Linked DNA regions of Homo sapiens: regions 2, 3 and 4 are each linked to region 1. The links come from fine-mapping of genetic effects on gene expression. A gene starts in region 1. Each other region holds a variant in brackets. All regions are shown on one strand. Distances are between the middles of the regions.

Region 1 (5,193 bases):
CACGTTGAACTTGACCTGGTCAGAGACCTGGTCCTCCCCTTCATGGGGGTTGTCCTGGTGTGCCTTCACAATCTGCTCATAGTTCCTAAAAGCATGCAGGCCAGGGCTGAGGTGCTGCAGCAGCTCCGCCCACCCAAGAAGAATGACGGGACTATCCTGTGTACTCCCAGGAATGGCAGCCCCAGAGAGCTTCTGGGTGGGGTTCAGTATCAGGGAGATACTGCTTCCAGGTCAGGAAAGGTGGCCCTCTCTCTCCAACCTTCCTTACATTAATCCAACAGGCATTTCCTGAGTGTCTGCCATGTGTAAGGACAGTTGGGGATACACAGTCCTACTGGCTAGCTCAGGAACTAAGAGTATTATCTGTACAGCAGTAACTGATGTGGCCTTTGAACAAGGGAGGGTGTGCAATGAAGTTGCCTCAGAAGTTCTGGTTCCCCCCATTCAGCACCCCTCTTACACTTTCATGATCTTTAGGGCGGTGACATCCTTGCGTAACGTGGACACCTCCTCCTCCTGCTTTTTCTTCTCCTTGTGCAAAAACTGAATGTAGTCAATGGCTAGGGTGGGGGCAAGAAAAAAAGGACAGGTACAGAAGTATTCTCAACCAAGAAGATAAGGCTGACTTTGTTCCCCTTACCCCAGACCCCAACTATCCCATGGCAATCACCACACCAAGGCCGAGCCATGGGTGGGTAGGAGGCACTGGCCTCTTCACAGCCCCGCTTGGCTCCATCCCCTCCAGTGCTTTCCCTAGCCATACTCTTTTGTAGAACGATGGCTTTGCTGAGCTTTTGGGAGCCAATGGAGAAGTCCTGCTGCTGGCAAGTGGGGACGATGGTCTGAAGGTCATCATAGCCTCTCTGTGGAAACAGCAGGGGAAATGGGTTCTTTAACCCTGAGAGATTAAAGCAAAATGGCACAAAGTTCCTCCATGACACCAAGTTCTATGCTCACAAACTCAATGGGGTGGGAAGGCTGCAAGGGAGGTGTTTGTGCCTGGGACTATACTACCTGCCCACCCCCTAGGGTGCCTGGGACTGTCTGAGTGGGTCAGGGCACAGGGAAGCTAAACTATGCAGGGCCCTCCCGCACTGGCTGAGGCACAGGCCTCCCTGTTCACCTTGATGGCGTCCCTCCTCTTCTGCTCAGCCTGAGTGTGTGCGCGCCGCCGCCGGTCTTTGTAGGACTCCTTGTAGGCCTCCTGGTGGTAATCACTGTCCTCATCATCTACGCTCAGAGATGGGGGCAGGGAAAGGTCATCTTGGGGCCCAGTGGGGTCCAGCTAGCCCACCTTTCCCCAGCTGGGAAGAACCTGGTGTCCAGAGAAGGCAGATGGACAGAACCACCTAATGTTCCAGATGAGGTGAAAGATGGTGAGACCTTGTGTCTGATACTTTGGCTCCAGCACCCCTGTGTGGATGGCTGGGGCTTCCCTGTCTAGGAAAGGTACTACAATTATGACATATCTGAGCCCCCCGAGGTCGGGGGGGATGTTACTGCCTACCTGTGTTGGGGACAGAAGAGGCACTGGTGGAACCGATGCTATTAGCTCTGGACACTACACTCCCCTTGCGGGTGCTTTCTACAAAAAGCCCTGGAAAAGAGAGGCCCCAATCACTAAGGGGTGGGGTGGGGAACATTGCCAGACCCTCAGACACCTGTAGGACACAATGGCTTTCTTTTATTTATTTATTTTTTTTTTAGACAGAGTCTCGCTCAGTCGCCCAGGCTAGAGTGCAGTGGCGCGATCTCGGCTCACTGCAAGCTCCGCCTCCCAGGTTCACGCCATTCTCCTGCCTCAGCCTCCCGAGTAGCTGGGACTACAGGCGCCCGCCACCACGCCCGGCTAATTTTTTTGTATTTTTTAGTGGAGACGGGGTTTCACCGTGTTAGCCAGGATGGTCTCGGTCTCCTGACCTCGTGATCCGCCTGCCTCGGCCTCCCAAAGTGCTGGGATTACAGGGGTGAGCCACCGCGCCCGGCCACACAATGGCTTTCTTAAATGCTGACCTCTTCCCTTCAACCCAAAGCCAACCATACTGGGCCCCCCACTTCCTGCCAGACCACGCTGCAGTGCTCTGCTCCCTAGTGTCTACACTGCTCCATAGGCCTGCATGATACCCCCCTGGCTCACAAACGGGCATGTGGACGTGATGAGGGTGTGAGTGATCAGCTGCTCCACTGAGTGGTGAGTGATCAGTTCCACCACTTCCCTGTTCCAGAGCAGAGGGAACTAGGTGTCACCCTCAGTTGTTTTCTGCCCTTGTCCTTCAGCTCCTGCTGTCTCAAGCCAGGAACTCTGCTCAGGGAGAGTGGACTGTGCTCAGGCGTGGTTGGCAACGCCACAAGAATCTAGAGAGCCTGGGCGGGAGTGTCCCTCTAGAGCTTAAGATGGGGCAGCTACTCACCGGGGTCCAGGCTGTTGTCGCTGTAGGCATACTCCACCTGCGGCACAGAGCACGGGAAGGGCCCGTCAGACCTCCGCCCCTAGGGGGAGGCGCCCCTTCCACTGCAGGCACGCACAGCGCGCCCCCCATTCCGGGAAGGCGCCTCTGTCACCCTGCGCGCTTGCACACACACAGCCCGGGGTGCGCGGGCAGCTTAATGAGTCCCCCGAGACTGGCACAGGCTAGGGCGTGCGAGTGCCTCCCCTGTGTATGATCCCTTCCGCCCCTACTCCACCCCAGTGCCCCGTTCCCCCGACTCGCGCGCACACGCCTCGTTTGTCTCCCCACCTTGGCACACGCGGGGTGAGAGCTGTCTTCTCTGCAGCCCCGGGGCACGGAGAGCGTGGGGGACTTTGGGGACAGGAGGGAAGCCCCTCGTCTTCCGGCCCCCCTACGTGCACGAGCCCGACCCGCCCTCCCCTCGCCGGCGTGCGCGCCCACGGGGCTTGCCTTGACCCAAGGGTCCTCGGGAGAGGCGCCCGGCTCCGTCATCTTGTACCCACCGGACCGGAAACGGGCCAGCGGGCGGGCCCCCTGCGGCGAGGAAGCGGGTGGCGTGCCCACGTGACCCGCGCCCGCCAATCCGCGACCGAGAGGTGGGGCAGGGCGAAGCATCGCGCATGCGCAGCCCAAAGACTTTACTCCACGGTTCCAGCCGTCAAGGCCCGGCGCTTGGCCTGGCGCCAGCCTCCTTCGAGACTGCTCCCCGCCGTGCCTGCCCTCCCCGGGTTAGGCAGTGGAATGGCGGCGACATGAAGCGCGTTTTGTAAGATGGAGTCCCCTCAATTGGCTTGTCAGCACACCGCCGCAGATAGTGTGTGCACGCGCACTGTCCGGCCGGCCGGCTCCCCACGTTACCCTGAGGGCGGCCTCCCCGCGCTCACCGGACCTGCACTGCTGGCCGGTGTGTCAGGAACCGGGCAGAGAAGCCCCCAGCCACATCGTCCGACCCCACCAGGCTGCAAGCTCTGTGAGGGCAGAGGCCCCGCCTGGCGCGCGGAAGGCTGATCTTCCAACACCCAGCCCAGTGTCTGGCAGGATGCATGTGGAATGAACCCTTGCAAAGAACCTGCTAGCTAGGTTATGCGGCCTCTCATATTAAAAACAAAACAAAAACAATAAAACACGGCAGTACCTAGAAAGTCTACACCTTACTCAGAAGAACACAGCTGGTCAGTGGGAGGGCCAAAGCTCGCCTCTGGCTAGCCTCAAAGGCCATTCTCTTAACCACTGCATTGCCCAGGCTTCCAGCTCAGGCCTGGGCCCTGCACTTGTGGCTTAAGGATCCCAAAGATACTTAGGGGCATTGGAACAGGAAGCAGACACCATACAAGCAACATCTCAGAACATTCACCTTTAATTCTGTTACAGGTTCCAGTATTTGCGCTGGCCCTAGTCAGCTGTGGGTAAGAGTCACCCATGGGCAAGAGTGGGGAGGGGACTGCTCCCCCATGAACCACATCCTCAGTGTTGGCCAAATACCAGCGTGTTGGGTAGGCTTCCTGTGTCCACCAGGCCTGGCCATGTCCTGCACAGTATAGCTTGGACCTCTGGGCCTGAACCAGGGTGAGCATCAAGGCCCCCATTTCTCCTCACCACGGGGTCGCTTGTCAGCTCCAGGAGCCAGTCTGGCCCCACTGAGAACTTTTCAGTCGAGGGCCTGATGAGTCTTGGGAATGCGCTTCTGCAAGAGGGCCCAGGCTTTCTCCACCTTCAGACAGGCCAGGATGTTGGGAGGAAGAGAGGGCAGGGTCAGGCAGTACCCACTGGAGACTCCTTCCCCACAACCCGGCCTTGCCCTGGGCACCAACCTGGCGTTGGGTGATATGCGGCTCCCACAAGGTGCTGAGCACCACGTGGCTCTGTTCCACAAGCTGCTGCCCGCTCATCTGGCTCTGCAGCCGGCTTTGAGCCGCGGCTTCACTGAGGCCATCCCTCTCCACAATGCGTCTTACAGCCTGAGCACAGACGAGACATTTGTCAGGAAGAATTCCAGCTCACAGGATAGGATCTGCAGTAGGGATGGTGTGGGGGGTGGGGCGAGATACCTCAGTCTCTGGGATGACAGCAGTCCACACCTCATGGACCAGGTTCTGCCAGCCGGCTTCAAGCAACACAGCGGCATCAATCACACACACACGCTTTCCTGTGGGGAGACCCCAGTCACCGCCAGCAGTGCCGACGTTCTCCCAGGCAGAACACAGTCCCAGGGTGAACAGACAGTCCCACGTTGGGCAGGGAAGCTCCCAGGGGAAGAAACAGCTTAACTGTCCCCTTAGCTGTTGCCATCCTCCCTCCCACTCACCCTCAGCCACAGCCCGATCCATCTCCTCTCGGGCCAGCTTTGCGATAATTGGCCACATAATGTCCGTGAGTATCTTCAGCTGCTTCTGGGGAGGGGAACAGAGGGCAGAGGTTACCTTCTCTAGAAGAGGCAGCCAGCCCGAGCAAGGTGGTGTTGGGAACAGATCAATGGAAATGGCATTCTGGGCCAGACCAGAGAGGTCCACTGGACCCTGACCCCTGGGTCTAGTAGCGGCTTAGGAGCCCTTAGGAAGTTATTGTTTACCTTATTCCCAAACACCCGGCTGCCTAGGACCTTCCTGTTGATGATGCCATCTTTATGGAGAATATCTGGACAACACAGACAGACAACTGAGCACAGAGGCCTGGCTAGCTCCTCACTCCAGGCCACTTTCAGCCTTCCCCAGTTATTACCTGTTCCAAAGGCCTCCACCACAGG
Region 2 (5,000 bases), 160 kb after region 1:
GGGGGAAACCTGGCCTGGAGTGGAGAGGAAAAGCTAATGGTGAAATACCCTCTCCAGAGCCAGCCTATTGGACATCATCCCAGGATTCAGCTCAAGTTGTTTCGTCTCCTGTCCCCTGACCTTCCACCAAGAAGGCAGCTCCTATGGTGTAAGCCGTCACTCCAGGGGAAGCCTACGATGAATGGGGTTAGAGCCCCCAGATCCCTTACTGGTCTGGAGAGATTTCTAAATCCAGGAATAAACCTCCCCTTGGCCAGGCACAGTGGCTCATGCGAGAAATCTCAGCACTTTGGGAGGCCGAGGCAAGGGGATCACTTGAGCCCAGGAGTTTGAGACCAGCCTGGGCAACATAGTGAGACTCTGCCTGTACAAAAACTACAAAAATTAGCTGGGCATGGTGGCGTGCGCCTGTAGTTCCAGCTACTTGGGAGGCTGAGGTGGGAGGATCACTAGAGCCCAGGAGGTTGAGGCTGTAGTGACCTGTAATCATGCCACTGCACTTCAGCCTGGTTGACAGAACAAGACCCCATCTCAAAACAAACAAACAAAAACACAAAAATGGCCAGATGCGGTGGCTCGTGCCTGTAATCCCAGCACTTTGGGAGGCCGAGGTGGGAGGATCCCTTGAGGTCAGGAGTTTGAGAACAGCCTGGCCAACATGGTGAAACCCTGTCTCTACCAAAAAATACAAAAACTAGCCAGGTGTGGTGGTGCATGCCTGTAATCCCAGCTACTTGGGAGGCTGAGGCAGGAGAACTGCTTGAACCCAGGAGGCAGAGGTTGCAGTGAGCCGAGATCGCGCCACTGCACTCCAACCTAGGTGACAGAGTGAGACCATGTCTCAAAAAAAAAAAAAAAAAAGGCCGGGCACGGTGGCTTAGGCTTGTAATCCCAGCACTTTGGGAGGCTGAGGAGGGCGAATCACATGAGGTTGGGAGTTCAAGACCAGCCTGATCAACATGGAGAAACCCCGTCTCTACTAAAAATACAAAATTAGCCAGGTGTGGTGGCACATGCCTGTAATCTCAGCTATTTGGGAGGCCCAGGCAGGAGAATTGCTTGAACCTAGGAGGCGGATGTTGCGGTGAGCCGAGATCGTGTCATTGCACTCCAGCCTGGGGAGCAAGAGCAAAACTCCATCTCAAAAAAAACAAAAAAACTAAAAAACAAAAACCTCCTCTCACTAGGATTGCTTCCTTATGTTGTAGTTTGAGACCTTTCATGAGGCACTAGGAAGATGGCATTGGCTATAAGAAGTCTGCAGCTCTCTCCCCAGTCCCATTCACTTCCAAGTTCAGCTGGCAAAGACCTTTATCTAGGAAGCCACAGGCCAGGAAAACCAGCCAGCTCAGCCTTTAGGGGTGGGGTGGAGCAGGCAGCAGGGGTAGGGGAGAAGCGGGGGATGCTGGGGGTAGGGCAGAGAGACAAAGTGGATTTGTTTTCCAGCAGCTGGGGCTGTTTCCTGACTATTCCCTGCCTGTCACCCTTAATCCCTCCCTAGCCTATTCACATTGTCTGAGTTTAGTGAAAGGAGGGGCTCTCTCCACCCTTTGGTGGGGCGTGGGTGGGTTTTTAAGTCTGGGAGGTTATGAAGGAAAGATCAGAGCTGAATTTTTTTTAATATATATATATACTGGGGCTGCAGGTAAATTCTGGGTGGAGATGGATGAAGAGGGTTTAGATCCTACAATGATGTATAAGTCTTAAATGATATGCACTCCAGTAGCAGGCAGGGTAAGGGTGATTGTAGGAGCCCCAAAGTGAATGACTGGAAATCAGAGGGAATGCAAAGAGAAGTTGAGACTCTCCTACACTCAGAACAAGGAAAACACCCTTCAATGCCTCAGTGAATGATAAGAGGCAGAGGGATAAACAAAATGCCCTAGGATTGCCCATGATCTGCACTAAGCCGTCTATGGCAGGTAGAGACTACAAGTCCCAGCATGCCCTGTGCCCAGGTCACCTTGCCTGCTGGGAGGTGTAGTTGGGTAACAGAGAGCTGGAGGTGGCTTGGTGCCCAGCAGAGCTGATGCCCAGATGAGAGAAGAGGTGGAGCCAGCATTCCCTCTTTGTCCCTGCTAATGCTATTGACAAGAAGGGAAGGAAGTTGGGAGAGGGTGTTCCTAGTTTTCAGTGTAAACCAGGAAACTCTGGGGGGATGTTGATGGGAGGGAAGAGGAAAGAGGTTGGGGGCTGGGGAAGGAATTTCTGTAGCAGGTGGTGCAGAGATACCGAGCAGCCTATGTATAGGGGTGTGTGTGTGTGGTGTCAGTGAGAGGACTCAGTTTATGTTGCCTTAATTTCTTAGGGGACAGGATTTTTCTTATAATTCTGGGAAATGGTCTTCAGAAAACCCTTTAGAAAAGCGACTATCTCTCGTTCCTTCATTTGAAGTCACTAAAGGGAGTCTGGGCCAAAGAGATCCTATTGATGATCTTGGTCTGCCCTTTCCCTTTCTGTGCTCAGCCTCCCCTGCTCTCTGATGAGGGTGGAGGTGGGGGAGGGAGTGATCCAGAGATTCTGAAATGTTGGCCAGAGTCAAGATCTTGGAAAATCTTCCCGGAATGGAAAGCAGTTCTGGTGCTAAGTCCTCCAAGGAGAAGACAGAAAAGCAAAGAACTGGTTCTGAGCTCCAGGGTCATGGGGAATCTGAGACCACCCATCCTACTCCTAGACCCCTGAGCTCAGGCTTTGTGCTGGGGGCAGGGGGTAGGGAAAGCAAGAATTGAAAAGTAATCTCTCTTCTATCCCAAAGTAGGGAAGTCACAACCAGAAGAAATGTCCAGACTGGGGAGAAAACATGTCCGTGGCTCCCAGCCAGCTTCTTCCTCTTTCCAATATCAATTTCTAAATGTGGGGGAGGGGGAGAATGACCACTGGTGGAGCCAAACAGTATGAAGGAGTCAAAGAAGGTGGAGGTGGGGGAGGGTGGACCACAGTTCTCCATCTCTAAGGCTGGTTCTGAAATAGCTTGAGGCCAGGAGCAGTGGCTTATGCCTGTAATCCCAGCACTTTGGGAGGCCAAGGCGG[GT/T]GGATCATTTGAGGTCAGGGGTTCGAGACCAATCTGACCAACATGGTGAAACCCCGAGTCTACTAAAAATACAAAAAAATTAGCCAGGTGTGGTGGCGCATGCCTGCAGTCCCAGCTACTCAGGAGGCTGAGGCAGGAGAATTGCTTGAACCTGGGAGGCAGAGGTTGCAGTCAGCAGAGATCGTGTCACTGCACTGCAGCCTGGGCGACAAAGCGAGACTCCATCTCAAAAAAAAAAAAAAAAAGAAATAGCTTGAGTCTAGGAAATGCACTTCCTTTACTTTACCTGCTTGGGTGGGTAGGTGCAGCTGTGGGCTCAAACCCCTACCCGCTTTCAACTTAGACACTCCCACCACTTGCTTTTCGGCCTGGCTCGGGCAGTGTGCGATTTGCGGCACCAGAGGGCGCTCCGCCCATTTCCAAAGTGGAGCTGTGTCTCCCGAGGGCCGTAGTGGTTTAATATCATCTACGGGTGGAAAGGGATCAGGACAGGGTTGGACGACCACAGAGATTTTAGCCCAAGTGCAATTATTACGCAACCCCATCTCCGACCCGAAGTTTGGTCCCCTGCTCCCGCGGTCTGTTTAGTCACCATTCGTTCAACACACATGTTTTTTAGAGAATGGCGGCGCGAGGCCGGGCGCAGTGGCTCACGCCTGTAATCCCAGAACTTTGGGAGGCCGAGGCGGGCGGATCACCTGAGGTCGGGAGTTCGAGACCAGCCTGACCAATATGGAGAAACACCGTCTCTATTAAAGATACAAAATTTAGCCGGCGTGGTGGCGGGCGCCTGTAATCCCAGCTATTCGGGAGGCTGAGGCAGGAGAATTGCTTGAACCCGGGTGGCGGAGGTTGCGGTGAGCCAAGATCGCGCCCACTGCACTCCAGCCTCGGCAACAGATCGAGACTCCGTTTAAAAAAAAAAAAAAAAAAAAAAACAAGGAGAGAGAGAGAGAAAGAATGGCGACGCGGGGTTGGGGGGCCGGAGATGGGTGATATGTTGCCCAGGCTGGTCTCGAACTCCTGGACTCAAGCCATCCTCCTGCCTCGGTCTCCCACAGCGCTAATATTACAGGCGTGAGCCTACACACATTTATTGAGCGCCCGCCAGTTTCCTGGGGACCACGAGCGTCCCATGCTCCCCTCTCTCCAGGATCGTCACCACCCTGACTCAGGCTCGCCCACATCCGCCTCCTCCGACGCCTCTCATGTCCCTTCTCCTCTTCCCTTAGGATGAAGTGAAGCTGCCGGCCAAACTGAGCATCAGCAAATCGCTGAAAGAGTCGGAGGCGCTGCCAGAGAAGGAGGGCGAGGAGCTGGGCGAGGGCGAGCGGCCCGAGGAGGACGCAGCGGCGCTGGAGCTTTCGTCGGACGAGGCGGTGGAGGTTGAGGAGGTTATTGAGGAGTCCCGCGCAGAGCGTATCAAGCGCAGCGGCCTGCGGCGCGTGGACGACTTCAAGAAGGCCTTCTCCAAGGAGAAGATGGAGAAGACCAAGGTGCGTACCCGCGAGAACCTGGAGAAGACGCGCCTCAAGACCAAGGAAAACCTGGAGAAGACGCGGCACACCCTGGAGAAGCGCATGAACAAGCTGGGCACGCGCCTGGTGCCCGCCGAGCGGCGCGAGAAACTGAAGACGTCGCGGGACAAGTTGCGCAAATCCTTCACGCCCGACCACGTGGTGTACGCGCGCTCCAAGACCGCGGTCTACAAGGTGCCACCCTTCACCTTCCACGTCAAGAAGATCCGCGAGGGCCAGGTGGAAGTGCTCAAGGCCACCGAGATGGTGGAGGTGGGCGCCGACGACGACGAGGGCGGCGCGGAGCGCGGGGAGGCCGGCGACCTGCGGCGCGGGAGCAGCCCCGACGTGCACGCGCTGCTGGAGATCACCGAGGAGTCGGACGCCGTGCTGGTGGACAAGAGCGACAGCGACTGAGCCGCCCCCGCTGCCACCCACCCCATTCCTCGCTC
Region 3 (5,193 bases), 460 kb before region 1:
GCACTCCAGCCTGAATGACAGAGTGAAACTCCGTCTCAAAAAAAAAAAAAAAAAAAAAAAAAAAACACAGAAACTCTGGCAGCCATCACAGTGTGATTATTTGTTTATTTCATTAAATGTTTAACGAGGCTACATTGTTTCCCAAACCAATGTCTAATTTGTGAAGGAAACAGCGCAGAGAAGGAAGCTGGGTGACTCCTGCATCTGGGGTGGGGAAGGGAGTAAGGTCCCCTCCCTCCATCCTACAGAGGCCTTTGAGGATCAGCAACAGTCCCATTCCCTCCTCCCACCCACTGAGCTCCTCAGCCCAGAGCCCTCCTCCCCAGAAATAAAACGTCTGGCAACCCAGACCTGCAGAAAGGGACCAAAAATCCATTCCTGGTGGTATTGAAAATGTATTAAACTTTGGGGGGTCCTCCAGCTGATTGATTTTTCTAATTATGTTTGCTTTAGATGGATATTTAAATGCATTTGCATTCCCTGAGCTCACATGGCAGGATATGGAGGTTGGAGGAAAGAGGGGGCACAAACACTCCACACTCTGCACTTTGGTGGTTGCAGGCTTGAACCTGCTATACACTGAGAAGTCCAAAGTGGAAAAGAGAAGCCACTCAGCTAAAAATCGCAAGTCGATTTTTATGGCAGGTCCTTGTGGGGAAAGGGTCAGTCCTCAGAGACAGATGGAGATCCACCTAGCTGGGCCTGGAGCCCCTGCCCTCTCCTGTACCCTTAGCCGAGGACTCAGGGTCTTTGAGTCAGTCCCTAACCAGGTCTCAGTTTGAGGGGGTGGTTATCCAAGCACACTTAGATAATTTCAAATGCCATTGAAGTTATCCTAGAATCTTTGAGACTGGCTGAGATGAACTAGTCCCATAGGAGAGGTTGGGATAGGGATATCTGATGATCCAGGGAGTGGTGGGTAGGGATTCCTTTCCTCTCAAGACTGGAACCTGGCATAAGGGAAAGGAGAAGCTATTTTTTATTTTTTATTTTTTAATTTTTTTTAGAGACAGGGTCTCACTCTGACACTCAGGCTGGAAGACAATGGCATGATCATAGCTCACTGCAGTCTCTAACTCCTGGCCTCAAGCGATCCTCCCAGCTTGGCCTCCCAAAGGAGGAATCTTGGCTGGGATTATAGGTGTGAGCCACTGCCGAGAAGCTATTATTTTAAATGACACACCTCAGAGCCAAATCTCCCAGCTCCAACACCACATCCAGATAACCATCTATCCAAAAAACAACTCTGATCACTTCACTCTCTGCCTGAAATTCCTGGTGGCTTCATCCTCTGAGGATGATTTCATTCATCCTCAGAATGAAATTCTGATTCCTCTGTGGACCCTGCAGTAGCCTCAGTGTACCTTCCTAGCCTTGTCTTCTATTCTCCCTGCCATGGGAGCCCCAACAGTGCTATGCTCATTCTCATCTCCACGTGTTTACACATGCTGTACCCTCTGCCCAGAGTGCCTTTCCTACCCCTTCCCTGCCCGGAAAACTCCTCTTCAACCCTCAGGACCTGGCTCACAGGACTGGCTTCTCAGGCTGCAAGGAGCTCCCATAGCATCCCATACATGTACAAATATCCCTCAGCCATGGCACCCTCACACCTGAGGTACCTCTCTTCCACACTGGGCTGGCCTCCAAAAGCTTAGAGACTGGTCCTTGCAATCTCCCAAGCCAGTGTATGCCACACAGTTGGTGTTCAGTACATACTTGCTGAATGAATGAATGAGGGAGGAATGGGCTATAAATTTGGGTGGGATCCCAGCAGATAGTTGGGTAAGGTCAGTGTTCTCTTCCAGTGTGTCTGGGAGAACTGGCTAGGGCTGGGGGAGGGAAGGGCCAGGGATGGTTCCTGGGGGAGAATGTCACCGAAAAGAGGCCAGTGGGACCAGAGCCAGGAAGGGAATACAGGACAATCTGAAACCAGACTCCCGAGAAAACAGACCAGTACTGTCTTTCCTGACAACAGGCGCTCAGCCGTCCTCTCCACCGTCTTTCCTTTAAGGGACAGGGTAGGGGTGACTCTAACAGCTGATGCTCCCCTGAAAGCCATCATGAAACTCAGCATGGGAGGAGAGAAAGGTCCCTGGCCTGAGCCTCTAAGGAGACCCCAGAATCAAACTACTGACCTCTTAGGAAACTTCACGCTGTACAGGGGTAGCTTCTGTGATGTGGAGGCTTTTGATGCCTTCTTTTTTTTTTTTTTTTTTTTTTTT[G/TTG]GAGACAGAGTCTTGCTCTGTCATCCAGGCTAGAATGCAGTGGCGCAATCTCGGCTCACTGCAAGCTCCGCCTCCCAGGTTCACCCGGGTTCACACCATTCTCCTGCCTCAGCCTCCCGAGCAGCTGGGACTACAGGCACTGCCACCGCGCCTGGCTAATTTTTTGTATTTTTAGTAGAGATGGGGTTTCACCGTGTTAGCCAGGATGGTCTCGATCTCCTGAACTTGTGATCCGCCCACCTCGGCCTCCCAAAGTGCTGGGATTACAGGCGTGAGCCAGCGCGCCCGGCCTGATGCCTCCTTATCCCCACAACCCCCAGGGTACCAGCAGGCTCCAAGCCAGGGGTACAGATGGTGAGCAGGACCCCTCCCACACTAGCAGCAGGCCTGGCTGGGCTGAGAAATGCTGACTAATTATATGTCGGTCTGCTCTAAAACCCCCTAATGGCCTGAGAATTGCCCACTTCATTAACTAGGATGAACAGTCCCAGGATGTCTCCTTCTCCCAACTCTGACTCCTAAAAGGACACTTCTGATCCAACCTATGGCTTTGTCCTCTGCTCTATCTGTGGACATGGACAGGAAAGTTCCCCAGCTGAGGTCTAACTTTCCCTCTTACTGCTAAAGATTGGTAGATTGATTTTTTTAAAAAGCAACAAAACTAAAGCCACAGCCGTTTTCCATGGAGGTGGGCTTTATTAGGTGACTGTTGAGGCAAGGGAGGTTCTAGGGCTGGTGGACTGATGGGGGGCAAGGGCTTCTCCTTGCTTTTGAATTTAGTGCATGTTGCCTAGAGGTTAGATGTGTGAGAATAGCTGCAGAAGTGAGAGGAGAGGAAAAGAGAAGGTCATAGAATGGACATTTTCCTTGGGCCAGAACCAGGATATGGGGACTGGGGGTGGAGAGGGAGGGTACTCTTCACATAGGAGACTCCACCAAGGTCACCATTTGATACCAGCTTCCCTAACGCCCACCTGCCCCATCCCAGTTCATGCCCCAGATGCCAGCCCTGTTAGCTCCCTCAACATCCACTGGAGAAGAGGAGGGAGGAGGAGATGAGAAACGATGATACCCTTCTGCCCTCCAGCTCCCCTGCCCAGAATTGCTCGCTCTGCCTGCCCTAACTTCCCAGCCAGGATCAGGAGGTCAGGAAGCCTGGGCGCAGGCAGGGGAACAATTGTGTCCCTCACCACCCCTCTTCACACTCTGCCCTCTCCTAGCCCCTCACATGAGGTTGCAGCTTTTGGCTCGATCCTTGTGTATCTCGCCCTCATTCCCCCGGTCTGGCCGTCCTGACAGCTGAGCGGATCGCTGCATTCCCCGGCGTGAGTCAGTTCGGCGCAGCTGCCTATGGCCACGGCCAAGGGAGGCCACTGTAGCCACATGGAAGACATCCCTGACGCTGCGCTCAGAGGACCGGGAGGAGCACTCAACATAGGACACAGCCCCCACCTGCTTGGCCAGCACAGTGCCCTGGAAAAGGAAGGAGTGCATGGGAGAAAGTTATAGGTCTTAGCCTGCAGCTTAGAAAGGGGCATGGAGGCTGTGGGCTGGGGTTGAATGTCAAGGCTGGGGGCAGTCAAGGGATCAGGTCAGAGGTCACAGACCAGAACAAAGGATGAGCCAGGTAAGGTGTTTTCAAATCAGAGACTGAAGGGGCAGAGGTGACAGGTCTAGGCTGGGATGAGGTCAGACGTCAAGGGTCCCACCTGCTCATGTGTAACAGGGATAAGCCTCTGCTTGGACAGCTCCCTCAGTGTGGCCAGGTCAGTCCGCATGTCCAGTTTACAGCCAACCAGCACAACCTTGGCATTGGGGCAGAACTCTTGAGTCTCTCCTTGCCACTATGTAGGAGAAGAAAAGAGAATTGTGGAGGGGTGGAGGGAGGCACAGCGTGAGCCTTTGTGCCATGCCAGCAGTGTGCCCTCTCTTCCTCAAGCACGCAGAAACCATGTATCCCTCAGGACTCTCCCACATGAGGAAGGAGGTGAGAATGCTAGGCTTGGTTTGAGAGCAGGATGGGGTGAGAGAGAAGCAGCGGGGAGGAGAGGGCTGGCGTGGGCCTGTGGACTCTTCTCCCTCAGTGGCTATGAAGGGTCTGCCAGCCTGGAAACTTCCCATTCCCACTCGCCTTTCCCATACTCTCTCCTGGGAACAAATTTATCCCACCCTCCCCTCCCCCACCTGGGAACTGGGGCTGCCCTAGCTGACTTCTGTCCATTCACCCCTGGCTTTTGTCATGGAAACTGGGGCCTGGAGAGGAGGCCACAGGGCTTTCCTGAGCTCCAGGATCAGGCTTCCCATCCCATCCCCTCCATCTGGGACTCCCACTGCCAAGGAGTTGGAAGAGCAGAGAAGGAATCCTGTGAGTGCTTCTCCCTTCACTCCCCCACCTCCCCTAGCTGCTGTATCCAGCTCTGAGGACTTTCAGGAAAGGGGTGGCTGGGAGGGATGGGGGCTGGAGGCAGGGGTGGCAGGGATGAGAGCTTCACTCGCTAACCAGCTGATGGCCATACCCCAGCCATCACTCCCTCCTCCTGGCCCATGTTATGTCAGGACCATGGTGGTCTGGTCCCCCTCAGTCTAGCTGCCCTATTTCCCCAGGCTCCCACCTTCTTGAGAACACTGTCCAGTGTTTCTGGTCGGCTAATGTCGAAGCAGATGAGCACAGCATCAGAATCAGGATAGGCCAGAGGCCGGACATTATCATAGTAAGAGGAACCTGAAGGAAGACAGGGCATGAGGGGCCTGAGTGGATGGGAGGCCTGGAAGGGAATGGGAGACCTTACAGATCCTGGTCAAGGGATGCTGGGAGCAGAGAATGGAAAAGAGCAACCATTAATACCCATCATTAATACCCATCATGGAGTCTGGGTTTCCCAAGTGGGGGAGCGGGCAGAAGGGAGGTCACATGGTGGGAAACGGCTCTCTGCTTCCCTAGTGGTTTAAAAAGTAATAATTTTTATTCTTG
Region 4 (5,193 bases), 240 kb before region 1:
GCACAATCAATAACTTCAGGCTGGGTCGCCTGCCCAGTGTTCCCGTGGAATGGAATGAGATTAATGCTGCTTGGGGCCAGACTGTGTTGCTGCTCCATGCTCTGGCCAATAAGATGGGTCTGAAATTTCAGAGGTAGGAAGTGTAGCCCTTTCTTGGGGAGTGATGTGCATTGATATAATTTGTATCTCCAACCTGGTACTGCTGTCCACCATGTCAGGAGCCCTTGCTGCCCACAGACTGGGAGTTTTCTGTGGCTGAAGAGCTGTCAGCATCTGATTTTCCCCTCATCACAGGGCTCTCTCCACTGATCACACAGTCACTGAGTTGCGTGACTATAGCATAGTTCCCAGCCTACAGTCCCCAGAGCCTTAGTGTTCCTCAGGATATTTTCAGTTTTTGTTTCTTAAATTTAAACCAAAACATAACATTTGTTCATGGAAGGCCCCCAGGCAATTATATAATAAATGTAGTTTGTTCATTAAACAAAATCTTTTAAACATGGATTCAATGGGGAGGTGGGAGAGGGAGTTGAGCATAATAAAAGAAGCCCTTGGCCAGAATGAAGAGTGAAATCATTGGGTTGTAACTTCCCAATAATCACTTTGGGAGGAGTCCTGTATCCATCTCTGTTTGTATCTCTATTTTAGATACCGACTTGTTCCTTACGGAAACCATTCATATCTGGAGTCTCTGACAGACAAATCTAAGGTACTCTGTGAAGCTCCATTTTCACTGGAATACAGAGTTCTTATATCTCTTAAGAAAATGGATGGTTTGCTTTGATATTGGCATTCAATTTATTTTTTAGACCTAGATATGAAGAGCCAGTATATTGTTCAATATCTTGTCTAGTTCAGGTTTAGTTTTGGGGGTCTTGTAGACAGAAATCAGGTTTTGACAGTCTGTTGAGAAGGGATATGGGCAGGTCAGAAGAGGGTGTGTGCACTAGGCTAGGAAAAGAATCACCGTGAGATAGATGTTTACAGGTTGAGTATCACCAGAAGTGTTTTAGATTTTGGATTTTTTTTTTCAGATTTTGGGATATTGGCATATAGATACTAAGATATCTTGGGAATGGGACCCAAGTCTAAACACAAAATTCATTTATGTTTCTTCTTCTGAGACAGAGTCTTGCTCTGTTGCCCAGACTGGAGTGCAGTGGCACGATCTCGGCTCACTGCAACCTCCGCCTCCCAGGTTCAAGTGAGTCTCCTGCCTCAGCCTCTGGAGTAGCTGGGATTACAGGTGCCCACCACCAGGCCCAGCTAATTTTTGTATTTTTAGTAGAGATGGGGTTTTACCATGTTGGACCAGGCTGGTCTCGAACTCCTGACCTCAGGTGATCCACCCGCCTCAGCCTCCCAAAGTTCTAGGATTACAGGCATGAGCCACCGTGCCTGGCCTGTTTTATATATACCTGATACATGTAGTCTGAGGTAATTTCATACAATATTTTAAATAATTTTGTGCATGAAACAAAGCTTGTATACATTGAATCATCAGAAAGCAAAGGGCCGGGTGCAGTGGCTCACGCCTGTAATCCCAGCACTTTGGGAGGCCAAGGCGGGTGGATCACAAGGTCAGGAGATTGAGACCATCCTGGCTAACACAGTGAAACCCCGTCTCTACTAAAAATACAAAAAAAAAAAAAAAATCAGCTGGGCGTGGTGGCAGGTGCCTGTGGTCCCAGCTACTCGGGAGGCAGTGGCAGGAGAATGGCGTGAACCTGGGAGGCAGAGCTTACAGTAAGCCGAGATTGCGCCACTGCACTCCAGCCTGGGCGACAAAGCAAGCCTCTGTCTCAAAAAAAAAAAAAAAAAAAAAAAAAAGCAAAGGTATCAGGTATGGAATTTTCCCCTTGTGGCATCATATCAATGGTCAAAAAGTTTCAGGTTTTGTAGCATTTTTTATTATTTTTATTTATTTATTTATTTTGAGACGGAGTCTCACTCTGTCACCCAGGCTGGAGTGCAGTGGCGTGATCTCGGCTCATTGCAGGCTCTGCCTCCCAGGTTCACGCAGTTCTCCTGCCTCAGCCTCCTCTCCTCCCGAGTAGCTGGGATTACAGGCGCCCACCACAATGCCTGGCTAATTTTTTGTATTTTTGGTAGTGACGGGGTTTCACCATGTTATCCA[T/G]GATGGTCTTGATCTCCTGACCTCATGATCCACCCGCCTTGGCCTCCCAAAGTGCTGGGATTACAGACGTGAGCCACTGTGCCTGGCATATTTTTATTTTTTTTTCTTTTCTTTTTGTGGGTTTTTTTTTTTTTTGAAATGGAGTTTCGCTCTTGTTGCCCAGGCTGAAGTGCAATGGCATGATCTCGGCTTACTGCAACCTCCGCCTCCCGGGTTCAAGCAATTCCCCTGCCTCAGCCTCCTGAGTATCTGGGATTACAGGCATGCACCACCACGCCCGGCTAATTAGGTATTTTTAGTAGAGACGGGGTTTCTCCATGTTGGTCAGGCTAGTCTCAAACTCCCAACCTCAGGTGATCTGCCCACCTTGGCCTCCCAAAGTGCTGGGATTACAGGCGTGAGCCACTGCTCCTGGTCTATTTATTTATTTTTCTTTTCCCATGTACTCTTCCTGGAAAGGTTTTGTAGCAATTTGGATTTTTGGATTAAGGATGCTCAACCTATGGTACATTTTCATTGATAGTGAAACAGTTCTAAGTGCATTGTTACTTGCCCAAGCTTATTGTAGTTGTTCAAATCTATGGAAGATAGAGTCCAGCTACAATACAAGTTTCCAGTGGGATACAGACAGAACATGACTTGAGAGATTGATAGGATTGGGAACAATCTCTGGAAGCCTTTCTTGGTGCCAGATCCATAGCCAGTTTTCTCTTCTTGGGCAGGAGCTGCCGTTATACTGTTCTGGGGGGTTGCGGTTTTTCTGGGACAACAAGTTTGACCATGCAATGGTGGCTTTCCTGGACTGTGTGCAGCAGTTCAAAGAAGAGGTTGAGAAAGGCGAGACACGTTTTTGTCTTCCCTACAGGTCAGTATAGCGCAATGCTGAGTGAACTTGTATAGGACCAAATTGAACAGAATTGAAGCAGCAGTAATAATGGAGGCAAAACAGTATAAATGGTGGGAAAGCAAAAAAATGGCACAGAATCACATGACATTGATGGGCAGAGACTGACCCAGTACTGCAAGCAGGACAGAATGTGACCACCTAGTCCTTGGAGTAGAAGAATGTTGCCTTAGATGGTTTAGGGGGTTTTCTTGGCATAGAGCTCAAGCCTCCTCTCCAGTTTCAAGAAGGTTTTTCCCTGAAGCCCTTGGAAATACACAGGAATGCTTCTTTTGATTTTTCTAGGATCCCATTGATGGATGGAAACTCTAGTTTTTACTTAGAGTAAGGCTGCTTCTATCACCCCAAAACAAAGCATTTCTTTTCTTCTGCCTCCTTTCTCCCCCGCCAAGTTCAGGGATGCCTAGGAAAACAGCAAGAAGTACTGTAACCCTCACTCACCCCTACTCCAGGCTTCTCTTCTCTTTGGGTGTGTGTCCTGTCCCTGTACTCTGCAATGACAATGAGGCTCTTGTGACAGTCTTCTTGATTTTTGGCTTTCAAGCAAATCCAAAATACACTATCATTCCTCACCAAGTGTTCTTTAATAGATAAAATGACGTGAATGGTCCCATGATCAAGTCCCTGCCCCGAACTTACTTAACTCAGATCTCAGTTACTAATGAGTTTTGCTCTGTCCATCTGCAGGATGGATGTGGAGAAAGGCAAGATTGAAGACACAGGAGGCAGTGGCGGCTCCTATTCCATCAAAACCCAGTTTAACTCTGAGGAGCAGTGGACAAAAGCTCTCAAGTTCATGCTGACGAATCTTAAGTGGGGTCTTGCTTGGGTGTCCTCACAATTTTATAACAAATGACTTTTTTCCTTAGGGGGAGGTTTGCCTTAAAGGCTTTTAATTTTGTTTTGTTTGCAAACATGTTTTAAATTAAATTCGGGTAATATTAAACAGTACATGTTTACAATACCAAAAAAGAAAAAATCCACAAAAGCCACTTTATTTTAAAATATCATGTGACAGATACTTTCCAGAGCTACAACATGCCATCTATAGTTGCCAGCCCTGGTCAGTTTTGATTCTTAACCCCATGGACTCCTTTCCCTTTCTTCTCTGAAAAAAACTAATTTAAATTTGCTTTTCTTTTTTTTAACTGAGTTGAATTGAGATTGATGTGTTTTCACTGGATTTTTATCTCTCTCAACTTCCTGCACTTAACAATATGAAATAGAAACTTTTGTCTTTACTGAGATGAGGATATGTTTGAGATGCACAGTTGGATAATGTGGGAAAATGACATCTAAGCTTTACCTGGTCACCATGTGATGTGATCAGATGCTTGAAATTTAACACTTTTCACTTGGTTCTTATACTGAATGCCGACTCTGCTCTGTGTTAGAGATATGAAATGGTGTTTGATACTGTTTGAGACATTATGGAGAGATTTAATTATTTGTAATAAAAGATTTGCTGCAGTCTGAAAACTGCCCAGGGGTGCACTGTTGGGTTTTTCTTTAAAATAGAGTACTTTGTATTCTGGGAGAATCAAGTTCTAATGAATGCAGGTATGTGGAAATTCTGTTGAAACTTCTTTAGAGTTAGTTTTAGTTTTAAAAAAAGACTCTAGTAAAAATAGATAGCTGTTGAGGAAGCCTTGTTTGTGTAGATCTGAATAATGGAACAGAGATGTTAAACTAATTTTAAGGGGAAATAAAGGCTACCTCCTTGATGCTTAGTCAAGGTCACCCAGATAGTCTGTATTTGAGCCCCTGATTAATACTGATTGCAATGCCTGATGTTCCTCTTAATGAAATTAAGCTAAAAGTATAAATACCTTGTTAAACAAAAATGAAACAACTAATCTGTCTCCACCTAGCTTTTTAACATTTTCAGGCTGATATGACAAAAAGGGCATGCTCGTCCACCTTAACTCTCTCTGATAAAGGAAAAATAAGCATGAAATTGGCATACAAAATACAGTTCAAAAGAGACTTGGAATTTTTGTACCCTTAGTATGAAAGTAAACAGAGGGAGGCATGAGTGCAGTGACGGATGGCTGTTTATATTTGGTGGATTCAGCCTCCCTCATGTGTTAGAGGAAGCAACAGTCTTCAGAGCTCTGGCTGCCAGGTGGGGAGGAATAGACTGCTGTCTCCC

Which allele goes with the higher level. Positions count from the first base shown, and alleles are read on the strand shown. Sizes are in standard deviations (SD) of each study's normalised expression. Not every link is listed here.
In carriers of allele G in region 3, the expression in monocytes after LPS of the gene that starts at base 2,967 in region 1 tends to be lower than with TTG alone (large effect, 1.7 SD a copy in Quach 2016).

Evidence for each region.
Region 2: its variant is fine-mapped to the expression of MLX in whole blood (TOPMed, PIP above 0.99).
Region 3: its variant is fine-mapped to the expression of MLX in monocytes after LPS (Quach 2016, PIP 0.95).
Region 4: its variant is fine-mapped to the expression of MLX in whole blood (TOPMed, PIP 0.96).

The regions. Positions count from the first base shown.
Region 1 is chr17:42,564,874-42,570,066 of GRCh38, reverse strand. It overlaps MLX (MAX dimerization protein MLX), which reads right to left and starts at 2,967. Exons shown (of 8, transcript NM_198204.2): 1 at 2,901-2,967; 2 at 2,412-2,448; 3 at 1,508-1,597; 4 at 1,124-1,230; 5 at 764-863; 6 at 461-560; 7 at 1-85. The coding sequence starts at 2,942. It overlaps COASY (Coenzyme A synthase), which reads right to left. Exons shown (of 9, transcript NM_025233.7): 4 at 5,169-5,193; 5 at 5,020-5,084; 6 at 4,756-4,840; 7 at 4,499-4,596; 8 at 4,262-4,408; 9 at 3,790-4,161. The coding sequence ends at 4,099. RefSeq lists enhancers at 2,216-2,305, 2,181-2,688, 3,446-3,495, 3,702-4,208, 4,209-4,715 and a silencer at 2,706-3,105.
Region 2 is chr17:42,404,652-42,409,651 of GRCh38, reverse strand. CAVIN1 (caveolae associated protein 1) reads left to right here. Exons shown (of 2, transcript NM_012232.6): 2 at 4,264-5,000. The coding sequence ends at 4,965. Among named protein-coding and RNA genes, the nearest start is that of CAVIN1, 16 kb to the left of the region's middle. RefSeq lists an enhancer at 3,292-3,341. The variant GT/T (reference allele first, on the strand shown) is at 3,031.
Region 3 is chr17:43,026,934-43,032,126 of GRCh38, reverse strand. RND2 (Rho family GTPase 2) reads right to left here. Exons shown (of 5, transcript NM_005440.5): 3 at 4,835-4,944; 4 at 3,932-4,066; 5 at 86-3,695. The coding sequence ends at 3,447. Among named protein-coding and RNA genes, the nearest start is that of RND2, 4.3 kb to the right of the region's middle. The variant G/TTG (reference allele first, on the strand shown) is at 2,223.
Region 4 is chr17:42,809,464-42,814,656 of GRCh38, reverse strand. CNTD1 (cyclin N-terminal domain containing 1) reads right to left here. Exons shown (of 7, transcript NM_173478.3): 7 at 3,070-5,193. The coding sequence ends at 5,122. It overlaps BECN1 (beclin 1), which reads left to right. Exons shown (of 12, transcript NM_001313998.2): 9 at 1-133; 10 at 649-709; 11 at 2,860-3,002; 12 at 3,729-4,523. The coding sequence ends at 3,897. Among named protein-coding and RNA genes, the nearest start is that of MIR6781, 12 kb to the left of the region's middle. The variant T/G (reference allele first, on the strand shown) is at 2,138.